Linked DNA regions of Homo sapiens: region 2 is linked to region 1. The links come from fine-mapping of genetic effects on gene expression. Tissue or cell type: whole blood. Region 1 holds a variant in brackets; the other region holds the start of a gene. All regions are shown on one strand. Distances are between the middles of the regions. Region 1 overlaps SDC2 (syndecan 2). Region 2 holds the start of SDC2 (syndecan 2).

Evidence for each region. PIP is the estimated chance that this variant, and not a neighbour inherited with it, causes the effect.
Region 2: SDC2 starts here. The variant in region 1 is fine-mapped to the expression of SDC2 in whole blood (TOPMed, PIP above 0.99).

What each region holds. Positions count from the first base shown.
Region 1 is chr8:96,520,291-96,529,839 of GRCh38, reverse strand. The region is part of intron 1 of SDC2 (syndecan 2); the gene reads right to left. Among named protein-coding and RNA genes, the nearest start is that of SDC2, 31 kb to the right of the region's middle. RefSeq lists an enhancer at 8,651-9,151 and a silencer at 9,165-9,459. The variant G/A (reference allele first, on the strand shown) is at 5,112.
Region 2 is chr8:96,489,914-96,499,462 of GRCh38, reverse strand. It overlaps SDC2 (syndecan 2), which reads right to left and starts at 5,650. Exons shown (of 5, transcript NM_002998.4): 1 at 5,132-5,650. The coding sequence starts at 5,191.

The sequences.
Region 1 (9,549 bases):
ACTTCTAACCATATACACACCAGGGATTGAGAAGAACAAAGAAGGAAAGGAATTATCAGCAATTCAGGGGTCACAGGGAAGGGGAAAAATAAGGGAAGAAAGCACTGAAGGAGGGAGATGGAGAGGAAGACCTTTGGGGTCAGCTGCCCCAAGTAAGAAGGCTACTCACTCACTCTACAAACAGGCCTTCTGCTCAAAGCTTCTTCCTCACACCTGAAACCAGCCTTGAAAGTAAGCACTGAGCAAGAAACCTTGGAATGAAAATATCCCAGGATATTTCCATAATGTGAAATGGGTCCATGTTTGCCGTTTTATTTTTGTTAGATTCTTAACTCTGACAGCCATAGCCGTCACTCGTACTCATGGAGTTTTTAAATGTAAAAATGGGTACAGGTTGGGATTTGTTTTAAATAACTTTTCTTATTTAAATTTAACAAATTCTTAACAGTAAATTTGAATGAGGCGGAATATTATAAATAAGCAAATAAAAATTACCTGTAAGTCAATCACCAGAGATAATTACTAATAACATTTTGATGTGTTTTCTTCCATTCATTTTTTAACATACCTATTGAATATTGACTGGGAAGGACGAATGGTTCACTGTGATGTCCAAAATTATCTCCTCTTCCATGTAGCTCTCACCTCTTGAATTTAAAAGTAAGACAACTCATTATCTAAGAGTGCATTGAGAGTGATTTGTGGTACTATTTTCCTTGGGAAAAACAAATGGCTGCCCTTGGGTGGAAGTAACTGACCTAGGGCCTCCACCCCAGCTCTGTCCAGCTGTCTTTAGGGCCGAGGGGCATCAGAATTTTGGCACAGCTGTGCCGGGGCATCTCAGCTGGGAAACTGATCTAACCCAACCCTCCCATTTCACAGATGAAGACACTGAGACCAAGAGAGGTAAAGTAGCCTGTTCAAAGTCACACTATGAATTAAAATTTGAGCACTTTAGAAACTGAAGCCCTATATGACTTCTCTGTTACATAAGATGCCTCATTATGGTCTTCTTCTGGGATATTAAGGATCATAAATCCCCTTCACAGGGCATATTTTTCCAGTTTTTCTCTCTGCCATTTTTTATATGGAGAACTGTATGATTAACAATAGTAAATTACAGACATATAATTTATAATTTTGGACAGCCCAAAGACTAAAAGGTTGTTTAAAATCAAACAAAGATTAAAAAACAACATTATGAAACTAAAATTAGAAAGACTATTTTTATTTTGAAATAATTAACTCTAGTCTTTAAATAGTAAGTTTCCCCAGTATATGTAAAAACCAAACCATTTAAAAAATTTTTTCTTTGGAATTTATTTTAACATTTTTCCTTTTAGAAAGTGTTGAAAATCTAACCATATTGTTATGAGCACTGAGTATTTGCATTTTCTAAATCTTTCTTAATTTTATGAGAGGACAATGAATACCGTGTGTTTTTTCTTTTGACATTTTTCTGTTCTAGTGATCATTATTAGTTATTTGTAATTCTTCAGTAAAATGAATACTGTTATGTACTTAAGTTGAGCAATCACTTAGAGTTTTTGGCTTTTAGGCTTAAAAAAAATCCTCTTTCTCAGAGATCAAATTTTCTCCACATTTTTTTTCTCGCTTAGAGCTTTAAATATATATACTTAAATCCAATCCGTATGAAAGATATTTTGGTGTGTCACCAAAGCAAAGATATAAATAGATTTTTTAAAATACCCAATTTCACAACCCCCTTCATCAAATAATCTGTTCCTTCCCCAACGACTTATAATTAAGTTATTCCATACGCTAAAAAAAGTTTTGAAAAGTGCTATTTTGTTGGATTATTTGCATGTTTTTATGCCCACATCATCATCTTTTATCAGCACTTTATAATGTGTTTTAATATTTGGTAGTAGAAGTTTCTGCTTCATTTTTCTATTATAAATATATCACACATGTAGATATATGATATAATGTAATATACATAGTCTTCCAAATGAACTATAGAATCAGTTAAAAAACAGGCTTTTTGTTTAATTGATTTTTGAAAACTATATGCGCAGATCCCTTAATACCTCAATTTTCTCTGGTAACTTAACATTAATTCTTGCACTCCATTCCAAACATTCAGTGCCTTTTAAATGCACCCTACAGATCCATCCCAAATATGTTGATTCCCAGTTCATCTGAAGACCCAACTCAAAGCAGCTTGGTTTTAAGACTCAACAAGTCTAACTCGGACTGGTAGGTTATGAGACCCCCTTGAACAGCCTGCACGAAGAGGCCCTGGGACTTGCCACTTACAGAGCACGCAGGACCAGATCACGTAGGGTTCTGTGTGCCACAGCAGTACGGCACTGGGGAGCCACTGACGGGCATGTAAGTAGGAGAATAACATGATCATATTTCTGTTTTAGGGGCAGAGAGAGAGAGAACTGTGCAAGTGGAAGCTAGATCAGTGTCATGCACCCACCAGAGGCAGGGAGAGGATTAGGAGTCTCCTATGATGTCTGTCTTACAAGAGCAGTGATAAGGGCAGGGGTGATAGAACAAAGAATGATTCAAGTGGGATTTATGTTATTGCAGTGTTTCCCCTATAGCAAAATAGGGTGCATTCAAACAGTCCCAAGGCAGAAATAATGAAGCTCCCAAACCTGTCCCTAAGCACGGTCTCTCTTCCCACCACGTCAATAGGCAGAACGTGCCTGCCCTCTTCCCCCTGTGGAGTGCAGTATTTACTAAGCACCTACTATGGATAGGTCAGGCACCATGCTAGCTGCTGAAATAAATCCTGGATGGGTCAATGCCAAAAATTAGCAGGAGACATGGAGAATGAAGAATATGACTCTGACATCCAAAAAGAGAGCCAAGTATTGGGAACAAGAGTCACCCAGACATTGGGAACAGACTGTTGTACAGAGCTACCACCTCCCTAGAGGCTACTTACCTGTCTGCTCCAAACCAGTGGCCAGCCTCCGTAACTCCCCTGCAGGTCCGAGCCTCCCCTGCACCAGAAAACAGTACCACTGGCCTTGTTCTACCAATGGATCGTCAGGGGAAAATCAGGAGCCCTGGCCACAGCTACACAGGGGTCAACACACAATCCAAGTTTTAGTTCCCTGACTTAACCCTTCAACGCTTGGTCTTTGAGGAGTACACCAAGTATTTATGAAGGCCCTTAAAAACTGTCCAAAAAAAAAAACCAAAGGCCTCTTTTCACTTTTACTAGCTTGATTCTTTAATTTTCACCCAATTCCTTCCTCCTCAACAGTGGTTTCCATAGTTCTCTGGGTGCAACCTGCGTTGGCCTTCCTGCAATCTGGAAAAGATCTTCTGTCTCCCTGCCTCCTTGAAAATAGGCAGACATTTGATCCACTTTTTTAAACTTCAAGGAGGGAGAGAAGAAGTTTCTGTAACTATAAAATATTTGGTCCCTCCACTTACTGGAAATATGCCACATAACAAGAAACATGAAACAAACAATCGTATAACAACTGGGTGGTTTTTGCAACCGCTTTAAGGAGATCAGCTTGGTCCTTTTTCCTATGTAAAAGTATTTGTGATGCTTCATTACAACAAAACTTCAAGTATTAGCTTTATAGAGGCCTATTTAAATTCAGAATCACAAAAAATCAGTACATATTCATAGAATTCTAACTTCCTTATGCCCATAACAAACATAGGTGCAAAGCCACTTTGGGGAGGCCCACAGGACCGAAATATCAGGAAAAGAACCACAAGGCTAAAACATACCTGGCCCTGCACCATGCCTGGCCCGCACATCCAAAAGCCATGACTAACTCTACCATTTGACGGTTAAACTTGAAGCCGTATGCTTAGCTTTGATAAGCCTCCATTCAAGGTCTCTGGGACTGACTTTGTTCATTTTTGAAACAGGTCAATGATGCCTACCCCACAAGGTTCCTGTGCGGCCCCACCCTGACAATGTGTGGAAAGTACTCTGTAAATAATGTCGTCCCAGACCCTTTTCCGGAGGCTTTCATTATCTTAGTTTTCTTCCTGAAACCGCCCCTTTCAACTACATGAATTTATGGTCTTATTCTGATTTTATATGTGGAGAAACTGAGACCCAAGCAGTATTTTTTCCAGGAAAAGAAAACTCCAACAAATTAAGAGATGCCCTCGGAGATCAATAAAGACTTGGGAATGCAGTTTGCCAGTAAGGTAACATCTTGGACAAGTCCTTTAACCTTTCCGAGCACCAGTCTGAGTTCAACTCACCAGCCTGGAGGGTAGACAAGCTGAAGAAGGTTTTGTCACCAGAGAGCTCTAAAGGAGATGGCAAACACTGGAGGAATTGGACCTCATATAAAGCAGCAAGGGCAAGAACCTTCTCCATGCCCCCAAGCAACGCACAAAGTAAGCCCAGGCAGGATGGGGTGCAGCCTCACTCTAATGGGAAGGGGGCTCTGATAAGGAACTTGTCCAGTGACCTCAGCATGGCACTCCAGTGCCACTGGAAAACAAGGCCTGCAGGTGGAAGTGAGCACAGGTGGGAGGCAGCTGTTAAAAGAGGAGCAGAAAGGAGACTACAGCAGCACCAAATGGGGTGGCTTCCCAAGGCCAAGCACAGAAGCTTCTCTAGGACAGCCAGGATCAAGACAGTGCCAGTTCCTGCCCTAAGTGATGTCACACATCAACCGGAAGCCTCATCACAGAGTGGGAACGGACAGCCTTGAACATTTCAAGAACACTTGGGCACAGGCCGAAATCACACCTGAGGTTTGCATGCAGAAGAGAGGGAGAGCAGGGCTTCCAATCATTCCTCTGGAATGAGCTGAAAGTACAGACTACGATTTTACATTATTGTGACCCAATTATTCCAGTATCTTCATAGCTCATATGGAGATCCATGTAACCCGACAAATAATGGCCAAAGTCTTGTCTCACTCAAACTGGTTCCACAAAAAACTGCAACTGATAAACCCTCAAACCCCACATCTTCCCAAGATTGAGCAGTAAACCACACAAAAATATAAATAGGAACCACCCACTAAAGTGCACAAATGATACTATATTAGGTCTCATTGAACAGCCCAATGAAGCCTGCAGTATTTATTAGGTGGAACCACAGCAGTGCTCTGACTTGTATTGGAAAGGAGAAAAAAGGAGGA[G/A]GAATGATTTCTAAATATGACTTCAGCATGTTGATAATAAGCTTTCCGGCACTGGTTCATTACGCCAGCCACCCTGCAATCATTAACCCCAGGTAGCAGTGGGGGAGCTAGGACAAAGAAACCCACTGCTTGCCCAAGGAGATTTCCTCATGCTGCCTTCAACAACAACTTTTAGGAAGTCATAACTCCCCCTTCTGAAACCAGAGGAGTTGATACCCTAAACTGGAATATATAACTGAAATTAGTTCTGACCGGTCTTAATTAAATCTTTGTAGCCAGTTGTCAGTGTGCTTGAGATTTTTCAAAATCTCTCTCTCACATGCTCAACAGATGTGGGTGGTAATCAAAGCCAAGCTGATCGGAGCTGCACAGACAGCGAGCAGCAGCTCCCCCAAACGAAAGGTCAGCCATGATAATGACATCCCCAGAGTGATGTATGTGCACGTTAAGAAGTTAAATCTCATGAAAAGAATGTCCAATAAAGCCATCAATTTTATTTTAGGTTCATCTGGCTGCAATTTCTGCCTACAGTCATCTCACTCCAGGAAAAGTCAGCACCGTGCAGGCACCTGGATTCACTTCGGGGTCTCTGGTATATGAACTATGACATTCCACACATAGTTTCCCAACGCAAGTACTGAAATATCTGTGCCCTACTTCTTAGCTCACTGTCTGTAAAACATTCCTTGCCCTTTGATGTGAAAGAAAAATACTCCACTTTACAACATTATCCTGGACTGGACTTCTTTTTTGAAAGAAGCCTAAAACAACACCACCATTGTGGCCACCCTGAGTGTCTGTGGCAACAACCAGAGAAGAAATAATCTTAAAGTTACCAACACGTTGAGCAACTTTACACCTACCTAAATCCTACTCCCCTGTATGATATTTTAAGGGAAAAGAAATCATTAGCAGAATTTCCCACAATTATCTTTGAAAAAAAATCCGCGTCTTTTTTTGGATGGATTCTTGTACCAAATACTTAAGCATTCCTCTGTCTTTAAAGCACCAGGGTAATCTGTTATTAAATGCACGTTTAAACCAACGTTTTATAACCTTGCTGCTGTTTTCAATGAGTCTCCGCCTCTTCCTACCAGGCATTTTGGGCTATAATAGCAGTCCCACAGCCACCTCCTACTGAATAATTATAATAGTGGGCCAATTAAACTAATCACCTTTCCACATATTTTTATCCGGCTTACAGATGTAAATCTCCCCCAGAATGCCGAGAATGAAAGGTTCCTCCCCAATAGCACCTAGGACTCCAAGAGTTACCCCTGGCAGAGATCCCATCCATTAGGGGCAACCTTAATGCTCAACCAAAACTAGTAAGTAACACATTCAAATATGCGATATTCATATATATTCACCACACACTCATCTTTCCTCTTCCAAGAAATCTAAAGGATTCATGAACTACTTCCACAGTACAAAAGTTTAACTTCGTGGTTTAGCTTAAGCAGCAAAACACCACCAAATCCTCTAAAAAGCAATTACCAAGAATGACAGTGCTGAACAGTGCGGGATTTTAGATGCTCAGCAATCCACTGTATGCATTTTTTGAAGGAAAAAAGATTTTAAAGAAAGATTTCAAATTCAGAGGTTTATCACTGTTGCATGAACCATTTACTATGGAGCAACTAACTGAATTAATAACTCCTCGGAGAAATTTTTCTTGATGACTCACACAGAATCTTCTGGCTCTGAAAGGGAGGATACGTTTCCATCCAAACGCCAAGTAACAAGCAGTGAAAAGGAAAAATTCCAACCCTAGGCAAAAGCAGCAGGTGGGAAATACACTCATTTGTATAAAGCTAATCCAGAAATAGCCATTTCCCCTTTCTAGATAAAGCCACAACCTGAGGAATGTTACTTCTTCTGGTCAGGGTGACAATTTGGAAGCAGTTCATGGACCAGATTTATTTTACACCTTACATCCTGAAACTGCTCTATCTTGTTCTCTAAAAATCCAATTATATAACTTAATGACTATTTCAAATATGGATCATAGATCCTTAAGCTATTTCCCTTACCTTAGTAGTTCAGTGATTTTCCCCAATAGTTTTATAATACATCCCATAAACTAGAATAACTGTCTACAGAGAAAATCACTTTTAGTTGACTCCTCTGATATCAGCACAGTACAGAGACAGCTTTGAGAAAGTGTTTCTCGATAGGGTGAAGAGACACTGCAAGCAATTGGGGACAAAATGGAGGAAAGGATTAACCACCATTTCATACCTTCCTTCTTTTTCCGAAGTAGCCAAGACTATGTCTTTAGTGAAGAACAACAAAAATAATACACGGCGTTCCCTTCTGTTCTAACTTTTCTCCAGCCAGAGGAGAAAAAAAAAAAAATAGGTAACCACTTGAAAAATTCTCTTTCAGGCAATATGTACTTCAAAAGCTCATCCAACAATAAATAGACACAGGCATGTCCTGATTAGGTTACTAAATAAAAAGCACTTCCCAAGGCATAGCTCTAAGGCAAGACTTTTTTTCCTACTTGGGACCTCTTGTCCTAACATGCACTCCAAGCCTTCCTTTCCCCTTTATTTACAGCTATAGATATAACCAAAATCCCAGAAAAAGAATAAATGCAAACAAAGACATTCCACTATATCTCAATAGGGCATCCTAAATAAATAATTTTCACTTGAGTTTTGCAGAAAGGATGGTAGGACTACAGAAAAAGACACACACTCAGCTCACACTCAACCTTTAAAAATAAAGCAATTTAAAATCTCATAATTAAGAAGTATAAAAATACATCCCAAATGTACTTGGAATTTTAGTGAATTAGGCCATCCTGATTTTTCTCTTGGTTACTCAAAATGCTTTAGGTTGACAATGTTCAATAAGTACCCCCATATCAAACAAAACACGAACAGCTCAATCTTTTAATTGAGCAAAAAGAGAAGGCACACATGTTTTAGTGATACGCTTGGATTTAATGTGTTATTTCCTACAAGAAATTAGCTCCCCAACCTTTAAAAGGAAGAAAGCTGAGGATCTTGTTACAACCGCAAAGCAAGGAAAATGCTCAATACCCGACACAGATGTGAAATAAATAGCAACATATTACTCTCAAAGAACTCTAAATAGACATATTTTTTTGACAGAGTCTTTTGTTACCTGGACAGCCTTAGGCTCAAAGACCTCACACACTTTTCTTACAACACAGATAATGCGAGCCCACCTACCTTCTCCAGACTGGAGGCCATAAATCCTCCAAGGCTGCCCTGATCCAGACATCGCCATGGTTGAACAAAAGAGTTCATTCCATAAACATCCTTCCTTGTTTTCAGAGCAGTCTCCCTAGATCCGAGCTTTCCCTCCTAACACCTTCCCAGGACGCCTGTTCTGCCTTTATGAATCATACATGGTAGCTACTGGAATGATCTATTTACCTGTCACTTATTAAGACTTACACACTAATAAAATGTTATTTGAAAGAAAAATCTGAATATCCCTGGACAGTCTATAAGAAGTGATTAACACATAATTCAAAAATGCTTTTGGTTTCCTCTCAGCGCAGTTTTCAAAAATACACAACATATTATTTATACGAATGTGAAAATCATCCCATTAGGGATGTGGTGCTGCATGAAACAGCTTAGCTGGGAATGAAGACACCTGGACTTAAGTTTTGACTGATTCTCCTTGGGCAAGTCACCTAACTTCTCTGAGCCTCTGCTTCTTGATCAATAAAATGAAAGGGTCTTAAAAGGCACTTGCAGTTCCAAAATTCTACAATCCGTTTCCTTCCTAGATTGTTCTCTCAAATCCAGTCTCCCAGAGCTCCGCCTTCTTTTAACCTCCATATTGTTTTGGCTTTTGCCCCTGGGTGTCCAGGGGAAAAGTCCTTTGTTTAGAAGACAGCCCTGAGGTTCCCCCAGGGGCACAAGGGTTAATGCAGGTCTCAGGATGTGCATAATCAAACTCAGACAGCAGCTGCTGAGTTGCAGCTAATCCTTAGAGAACTGCATCAGACCTCCTCTTTCTCTCACAGTGAAATTGCCTGGCACCAGGCCTGTTCCGGCTGTTTGGACCTTATGTTTTCGGCACATTGCAAACAACATCTTCTTGTGGATTCAACTCTCAACACGCCAATGGGTTTCTCTGTTTTGCTTTTTCTAGCTAGCTCTCCAGAAGCAAATACTTAAAACATAAGCACACACCCTGTCCACAAGCTGAACATCACATATAAACAGCTTGGGAATGTGAGGAGAGGCTCTGGAAAGGAAAAGGCAGTAAGACTCCCTGTAAATGAATTATTACTGCTCCTCTAATCACTTTGACAATCAATACTTCAAGAAACAGTAAGAGTGAGTGAAGCAGCAGAAATCACCTTTAGAAACTGCTAAATGTATAGATCTCACGCTAATTTCTAATACTAATCTGGTGTTCCCATAAAGTCACCACCTTTCTCTACTTC
Region 2 (9,549 bases), 30 kb after region 1:
AATTAAGGGGTAATGCTGTGATCTAGACCAGCGATTCCCAAATTAGTCTGATTCATTAGAATCATCTCAGTCGCTTTATAAAAATACAGTTTCCCCCACACTCCCACCCCCATTCAGGTTTCTGATTGTGTAAGTCTGAGAGGAGGCCTGAAATCTGTATTTTCACATACTTTCAATGATTCTGATCATCAGTATGCCTTGCTATTTACAGAAGGATTAAAAACAACAGGGCTGGATCAGCCATGAAAAGGTATTTGGAGCTTGCATTTAATCAATAGCATTTAAAAGGAGAAACACTGAAAAAGTAGCAATGTCCAGGGAGTGTTCATGATAGTGATATCAATGGGCCAGGGCTGGGAGATGTGGTGGAAAGTGATCAAGGGGGTAACCAGAAAGGAAGGCTATTATGGGGCCGCTTATAAATCCAGCAGAGGCATACAGACTATATGCCATGATAACAAGGACACGGAGGTGTCTAGACCATGGGCAACATGATCAAAGTGGTGGAGGACAAACCAAACTGCATGCAAGTGTCTGGGCCAGGAATGGCAACTACAAGGCTACTGACATAGAAGCACAAGCTGGCATGCCCCCAAGGAAGAAAAAAAGAGGGAAAGCTCTTCATTTGAAATTTTCTGTCCCATCAAGATTAGTGCTGCAGGAAGAGACCAATGGCCAGGCATAGTGGCTCACGTCTATAATCCCAGCACTTTGGGTGGCCGAGGCGGTGGATCAGCTGAGGTCAGGAGTTGGAGACCAGCCTGGCCAACACGTTGAAACCCCATCCCTACTAAAAATACAAAATTTAGCCAGGTGCAGTGGCATGTGCCTGTAGTCCCAGCTACTCGGGAGGCTGAGGCAGGAGAATCGCTTGAACCTGGGAGGTGGTGGTTGCAGTGAGGTGGCTGCAGTGAGGTGGTGGTTGCAGAGTGCCATTGTACTCCAGCCTGGGTGACAGAGTGAGACTCCATCTCAAGAGGAAAAAAAAAAAAGATTAGCGCTGCAGGAAGGGACCACATTTCCAAACCCCGACTTCTTTGCAGTGCTGAGCTCAGGTCAGGAGCTGGGTAAACACCTGTTGGTGCTGCATCTTTAAGTGCAGGTTCCCATGGGCCAGGGCATTCTGGGGCCGGTTGGCACTCCTGAGGAAGTTCCACGCTGGCCACTGAAGGCATGAAAAAATGAACGGAAAGATCACTAGAATGCAAGCTCCAAGAAGGCAGGGGGATATCTGCCTGGTTTGCTCACTGCTTTACCTCAAGCACCTAGTAGGTATGAAATAAATATCTGCAGAATGAATGCACAGCTGGACTTAGAGGCAGACTGGACGTGGAAACCAACAAAGATGAATGAGTCCAGGGCTTCTTCAAGATTTAAATCCAAATGATTAGAATGAAAATGATAGTACTGTCACAGTTGACTAAAAAAGTTAAATAAGAGTAGATTGGTTTTAGCAAAGATTCTTCTTCATTACTTCTGGCTTTTCTCTAAGACTTTATTTTGGCCTCTAGTCCACGAAAAGAATTCAGTGGTTTGGAGATTCTGCAATGCACCCTTCTGCCTTGGGAAGAAGAAAAGGATGGGCAAAATCTTTTAGTTTGATTTTTGGCAATGGAAGAAGGACAATCTAGTGAGAATCTAAACCCAGATGGCATTCCTCACAGGACAACTGGATCCCCACCAGCAGGTATGCCAACAGCACAGTGGCTTGACTGGACTTGCTATAAACCTTAATGACAGGGCTGGTGGGGCTCTGTGTGACTGGGTCAGCTTCAGGGGCCTTGCCAACCTAAGGAGACTCCAAGCCACCTCTAGCTGGCCAGTCAGGTCTCTGGGGGCTTTTGGAGACTTGAAAACTAGTTCCACCCAGGGAACAAACCAGTTCACCTTTTGAAATCCTTTCCAAACTAATGATTATCCAAGGCGCCATTTAAGTGATCATATTACACAGGGTAGGCTACCCCTCGAAGGGTGGTTACCATCAAAACTAGACATATCAGGTCCTAAAAGCAGAAGCTGAAGGGCATGCTCAAATTGCTTCTCAGACATCCATTTTCTGCAAGCCTGATCTTTCAAGATCTTTCCTTCTTAAATGACATCCTCCTTCTGCTAATACCCAACTAAGAGAGAAAGAGCCCTTGTTTTTATAAAATTCCCTAGCAAAAGCAATTTGTTTCACTCATAAAACAGCCAAACTATATTTTCTAAAGAACTGCAAAGTTACATGATTTCGATTTTAGTTACCCTTCTAATGCAAACTTTCCAGAGCCTGCCTTTCATAATACACCGAGAGATAATGCATGGGCCCAAATGACTTGACAGTTTCTTTTAATTTACAGACATCTAAGAATGTTTATAAAATTCCTCTAGTTCAAAACACTTCCTTTTCTTAAACATATTTCCAGTTCAAATTATGTGTTTATAGCAGTCTGCAATATATTATTTCTAAAGATAAACAGTCATGTACAAAATGGACAGAAAACCAGCAGCATATCACTACTGCCACACTCAGTCAGATTTTCCCCTTGCCTGGTGCTCCGCAGCCAAAGTCCTAACCTGCCAGTGGAAAGTATGAATGGATCACTAGGAACAGGCTTTCCCAGCTGCCTCCAGGATCCATAAAGGAACAGCTACCAGTTCCTTTTCATAGGCAGTTTTGAGCCTTAGTTCCTGAGAACCTCTTTTTTACCCCCAGAGCTAAGTATAAAACTTAAGAATTCACTAACTGTAGGCAGTTTTCCTTTCTTCCTTTAAAGGGAGACTTTAAACCCAAATCACTACTTCTAAATCCCAGGAAACAGTTGCAGTTTTCAAATTAAAATGCAAAGTCCTGGAAATAATATTCTGTAATTGCTAATTTTTTTTTAAATTCAGTCTTTTGACTTCATTTATATTTTTGCTGCTATACATGAAACAAACGGAGACTGAAAAGTAATTTAAATGGACTGTTAGCCATTCTGGGCCTTGAAACAGCTTCTATTTAGAAAGACTGACTCACTGCCTAACAAAGATTCTCTGCTAGTCTCTAAGTTGACATTTTATAAATATCTAATCACCCTTTTTGGATGATTTTCCAATTACTGAAAACAGTGTCTATCACAATGAAGCAGTTCACTCGGAAAGCATCCAGTTCTGGTTCAAATTGAGAAATATTAGAACCCCAAAGATACACAGTTCAGGGGAAAGCTGTCACCGGGGAGGACAGGTATATAGTTCGGCCAAAAAACTTCCTTAAGGAGCACTGGTAGATTTATGCAAAAACCCAGAGGAGCAGAAGACAGAAACATTCTTTCTCCAGAATCCCAAAACAGTAACATTTCCTAGCAAATCCATGAATAAGACTCAGCAAAAAAAAAGGGCCTCCTTAACCATGTGCAGTTTTTTAGGCAGGCTCTTGAAATTTATTAGATGAAGTCCCTTTGCCCTGTTTTGCAACAAGAGGAGCAACAACGCTCATCTGAAATAAACAAGAGAACTGCTGCCTTTTGGTGTACAAAGAGCCAAAGTTCATCCTAACTGGCTGGGAGATAACTAATACCAACGGATTAAACCATCATTTGCCAAAGGGAAACACTGATAAGGCTGGGAGTTCTATTTTACAACCTGAGCACCCAAAATACTCATGTAGTCTGTACAGTTTCCAATTCTACATGCTCTCCAACCACAAAGAACGTATGGGGATCTGCTAGCACACACAGAGGCTCCCACACTGATTAAAAATGTCCATCTGCCGCTCGATGCCAAAGAGGTTTCCCAGTCCTAAATTAGCCTCAGCACAAAAAAGGGGGGGAGGGAGACTCAAACTCATAAAACTACCTAAAAGACCTTAAGATGATATAATTTGTCTTTGAAAAGACCATTCAATTAATTAGAAATTGACACGTTATTAAATGGCAAAGGGAGAGGACGTGGGGAACCAGAAGGGCCAGAAACAGCCGCACTCCCTGAGACCCCAGAGGGCACTGAGGCTGCAGACGAAATCTGGGGTGCTCAAGCTTCCACCTGGCCCGACAGAGCTCCTGGCGCCCAGGTGGAGGCAGCTGCGGACGAGAGGAGGCCAAGGAGGCAGTTCCCTTTAGAGGGCGCTCATTGGGCGACGTGGGGAAACAAGCTCCAGCCCCCGAAGCGCGACCAAAAGGAGAAATCAAGTTCCCACCGCCAGGGCGGGGGAGGGAAGCTGGGTGCCGGCAGGCGCTCCGCCGGAGACGAGACTCCTCCCGGCCCCAGAAGCGCCCCGCCAGGGCCAGAGAGGGCGAGCGTGGCGGGAGGGAAGCCTCTGTCCCCCAGCGGCCAGGCGACCCGAAGCCGAGCGCCGTGTCACACGTACCCCGCCTCGCCCTGCTTGCGGCACTCCCGTGTAACTCCTATGAAAATGTCCTCCCGTCCCTGACGCCCCGCGGTGCAACCTCCACCCCTCAACGAGGAGGGGGTCGCCGCAGGACTGGGAATCCAGTGGCCGGCGTCCCAGCATTTTCGGACGCGTTCCGTGCCTCCCCCAGTATCCCCTTGAGGGATCGCCTACTGCGATTCCACGTAGTGTCGGTTACCTCGCCCTAGCCGCAGGGAGCATCAAACAAAAGAACTTTTGCAAACTTTTCTCTCTGGACACTCGCGGGTCTCTTAAATCTGGCCCCCATCTCCCCAGAACTTGCATGCAGTCAAACAGGAAAGCTGGCGCGGGGGGGATGGTGTGCGGAGGAAGGGACCCCGAAGTTTCCAGGTCATCCCTGGTCTCGAGGAGCGCGCGGAGTGGAGCCGTTCCCTCGCGGGCCCGACCCAGGCTCCCCCCTCCTGCCACCCTTTCCCCTCCGTCCTTCCCAGACCACGCAGCAAGACCCGCCGAGGGCGAAGAAGTTGGGAGTGACTTCAGGGGCCTCTGCGGCTAGACCAAACCGCAATTCTCGGTGCCCCCATTCCCGCGGACCGCGGGGTAACGCCAGCGAGCAGCGCTTTTCTGAGGAAGGGAAGAGGGGGAAAGGGTGACCGGACGAGCGCATTTGTCCCAGCGGATCTCCGGTGTATACTTGGGGACTGGGGGTTCCCCAGGTGGCGCTCCCCTATTCCCTGCGGGCTCCTCTCGTAGCTTCAAACACCCTAAACGGCGCGCGCATCCTCCGCCTGGCCCACTCACCGACTCCGCCGACACGCAGGCCACCAAGCCCAAGGTGAGCAGGATCCACGCGCGCCGCATATTCCCCAGGGACCGGCTGCTCCCAGCCGCTGCTTGCAACCAGGGCAAAACGAAGCCTCCTGCCCAGCGCTCGGCGCAGCCCGCGCACACGAATCCGGAGCAGAGTACCGCAGCGATTGCGGCTCAGGCTCGGGGACTCGGGCTCGGGGCTCGGGGGCGCTCGCTTCCTCCTCCTGCGCCTGCTCCCGCCGCCCGCAGCTGCGCCCCGGGAACGCGGCGCCCTCTCACTTGTTGGTTTCTGCACTCCCGACACGGAGTTGGTGCTCCGGGAAGGCTGCTCTCTGAAGCTCTTCTTGCTCTGCTGTGGTTTTGCTCCTCCGCGGACTCCTTTCCCGTGCCGAGGTTCAGTTTCTGGTTTTAAGGAATAAATTCGCTGGCTTGAAAGGGAGCTACGGCAGAAGTTTAGGGGCAGAGCGGCGGGAGCGCGCGATCCGCGCGGCTGGAGCTCCGGGGGTATCTGGAGAGCAGCGCGTCCAAGCGGGGCCACTGGCTCCGCGGCTGCGCCCCTCCTCCTCCCGCGCCGCGCCTCCCTCCCCGGGTCCTCCTCCTTCTCCTCCTCTTCTTTTCCTCTGGCTCCCTCCCTCCTGAGCCTGCTTCTCCGGGCTCCCCTGGGCGACTGGGGAGAGGAGGCGGCAGTGTGACTCCCAGATAAACCCGGGAGAAATTCCTACAGGATTACACGCCGATTGGCAGCTCCGAGGACCAGTGGGCGCCGCGGCTCCGCGCTGTGGCTGCGCCGGCTCTGCTCACCGGCAAGCCAGGGCTCCTGCGTTTTCTCAGTCCTTTTCTTCCTTTCTCTCCCCACTTTTCCTCTCTCCTCTATGCTCTTTTCTTCCCCGTTGTCTTTTCTCTTTCCCTTCTTCACTTTCCCTTTTCTAGAGAACAATTAGTGAAGAAACGAGAGACGTATGTAGCTTTTCTGCCTTGAGAATTCGACCAGTAGAAAGAAACTGCTTTGTGAGTTGAGGGAAAAAAAAAGTGTAAGATGCTTTCAAGCAATGTGAAGTGTTCATAAATCGCCAGTTCATGAAAATTGCATTTTAAAAGAGAAGATAATTAATGTAATAAATATATAGTGAGAGTGTTTCCCATTCTCCCAAATCCTTCCGCACCCCCAAAAAAGGGACATGGAGGAAGGATCCTGTAAACCCAAAGTGCAACAGTTTGAAAGCTCCTAACTTCATTAAGGGCTTAAATACCATTTCTCCCTCACACACAGTTTATGCCACTAAGGCTTTTTATAGGCTCCATTTTAGCAGATAGGTGTTAACGTTTGGAAGCTACAAATAGGGTAATTTGATGAGAAGTTGGATAGAGACCCTGAATAATAACAGATTTAAGATAACTTCAAAGAAAAGAGGGATAAAGTAATTCTTAGTTTGAAGAAAATAATGAACATGTATTTCCTAAATGGAAGTAGCTGACATGAAATATTTTGTTACAATGTCTGTGGCATATTATAGAACATGGCAAATGCGTATTCCCTTCCAGTTTCTTTTTCTTACTGTCACAAATTTTACACACAAATCCCTTGCAGTTCGTGCCATCATTTTTCTCTCTGACTTATAGAGTAAATGAATTATGACGCCATTCTGCTCCTGGAATGCCCACTACAGGAAACCAGAGACTTTTCTGTCTGTTCACCATTGTATTCTCATTCCTGGTACATAAAGACACATGATAAATATTATCTTGAATAAATTTTGCTCTAAAGCTCAATTTATACCGTATAAGAGTTGTGAGCCTTTAAAATACACCAATGTAGATATATAGATATGAGGCCATGGTAATTTTTCAACTCAGTATTAGAATAAAATACAGTCATACCCTCAGTGAGAATTAAATGTCTTAGTAACCTATTACTGTAATAAATCTCAAAGAAAGAAATTTAACTGGAGAATTACAACTCAAACTTGGAGACACTTATTCCTTTGGTTTTGTGTGCCAGCTACCAAACCTACAAATGCTCATGAGCAAGTCTAAGGCATTGGCCAACAAAAAGGTAATATGGAGAAATAGAAGAGTAGGCAAAGGAGAAAGAAGAAAAAGAGCAATAGGCCAGAAGTTGTAACATCAGATGATGCTTCTGATTCCACAGACACTGTAGCTGGCATCTGTGCCAATGTGGGCTCCACTTAGCTTTTGAAAGAATGAACCACAGCCTTTTTTTTTTTTTTTTTTTTTTTTGAGACAGGGTCTCATTCTTGCCCAGGCTGGAGTGCAGTGGCCTGCACTGTAGCCTCTACCTCTCAGGCTCAAGCAGTCCTCCCACCTCAGCTTACCAAGTAGCTGGGACTACAGGCACAGGCCACCACACCAGCTAATTTTTGTGTTTTTTATAGAGACAGGGTTTTCCATTGTTGCCCAGGCTGGTCTCAAACTCTTGGGCTCAAGTGATCTGCCTGCCTCAGCCTCCCAAAGTCCTGGGATTAGACACGTGAGCCACCAGCCTAGTGCCCTTATTTTTAAGATGGAGTCTGTGGGTTGAAGAGGTTCATGAGATGGGGAGACTTCTTAAAAAGGCCTCCAAAGGAAAAGCAGCAATGCAAAATACATGCAAAGAGCCATAAAATACCAGCTCTGTCCTCATAAGAGGCCTCGTCTACTCGCCAGCCTTCAGGCAAGGCCACACCTCCATTGTCCCCAACAGTTAAGTATTCATCAAATAAATTGGAATTCCAGTAAAACAGGAAGTGCACTCCACTGATTTGCTGGTTCTCACAGTTATTGCTGTTTACTGGGGCACCCATGTAACAAGAAGCGTGGTGAATGCTCTCTGATTCAGCTTGGGCAGACAGTGATAAAAAATGAATAAGTGGATACACGTGTTGAAGGGATATTATCTGTTTGCTGCCCTGAAGGCACACCCCAAGGCTCTTGGTGTTGATGAGATGCTCAGTGACTTGTTTCTTTAAAGATGATAAATACTCCATTGAGAGTATATATAATAAGGGAATTGGTACCATTTTGAGTGACACAATATTAAGGAGATGAAAACAAATATTCAAGATCTTGTGTTCAGATTTATTAACAGCTGTGGCAAGAAGGATAATCTGACAGTATAAAAAGCACTTACACAAGAGCTGGCTACAAAGAGGTCACCCATGCTGAGTGGGGATGGGGACAGAAGTCAGGGGAGGTCCGCTGGTATTAGTCAGGATTTGTCTAAATTCGCAAACGATGTAGGCCTGTTTGTGTGTTTTGCTAATTGGAAATGTTTAAAAAACTGATGGGGACTAAAATTTGGCAGAATTTTGTGTAGTATATCTAATTCACTAAGTATAGCTTGTGACTAGAACCAAAGGTTCTTTGCAAATATACTTCAAGTCCTCAGGTTTTGAGGGCTATGCTTTGAGGGGCACAGCTTAACCAATCACTTCCCAAATAGCTTCATTGATTGCTAAAAGAATAATTACCACACTTCAAGAGTCTCAGGAGAAAATATTAAAAATAAACAACATAGAGATTAAGATGCAAACATGTAAAAACAAATAAAAAATAAAGAGAACCAGACAAGTGAAAAAATAGAAATGAAAGCTACTAAAGACAGTTTTTAACCTAAACTGACACATCGGACTCTGTCACTACGGTAACAAATGATACCACATTACAACCGTGGATAAACAGGTGTTCTGTCCTGAGGTGAGTTGTCAGAGTAGGGGATAGCGGAAAAAAAAGATGCCATTCTGTTGTTCTCGGTTGTTCTTCCACTTGGCACCCCCTGGACTGTTACCAGGAGTCCAGGCTAGAAATCAATTTGGTAGGATTGGCTCTTATGAAATTCACTTGAAAGATGATAGAAGCTGAGAGGAATAGGATATCCATCCAGCCAACCATTAATGAGCCATCGCTAATACTGGCAAGTGAGCTGAGGCCATGACCAAAATCTACAGGCAATCCAAAAAAATCTATTTTCAGGCCTGGCGCGGTGGCTCACACCTGTAATCCTAGCACTTTGGGAGGCCGAGGCAGGCAGATTGCCTGAGCTCAGAAGTTCAAGACCAGCCTGGGCAACACGGTGAAACCCCGTCTTTACTAAGAACAACACAACAAAAATTAGCCAGGTGTGATGGCGGGCACCTGTAGTCGCAGCTACTTGGGAGGCTGAGGCAGGAGAATTGCTTGAACCCGGGAGGTAGAAGTTGCAGTGAGCCGAGATCATGCCACCGTACTCCAGCCTGGGCAACAGAGCGAGACTCTGTCTCCAAAAAAAAAAAAAAAAAGTCTATTTTCAGCCTCAAACTTTCCACTGTTCTCTTTATTCACCTCCATCAACCCCTTCCCAGAGAAGTTGGCTGATTTGAGTTTCATAAAATGATATGGTGCTAATGTTGAACAAAATTGTTACAGTTTTGGAT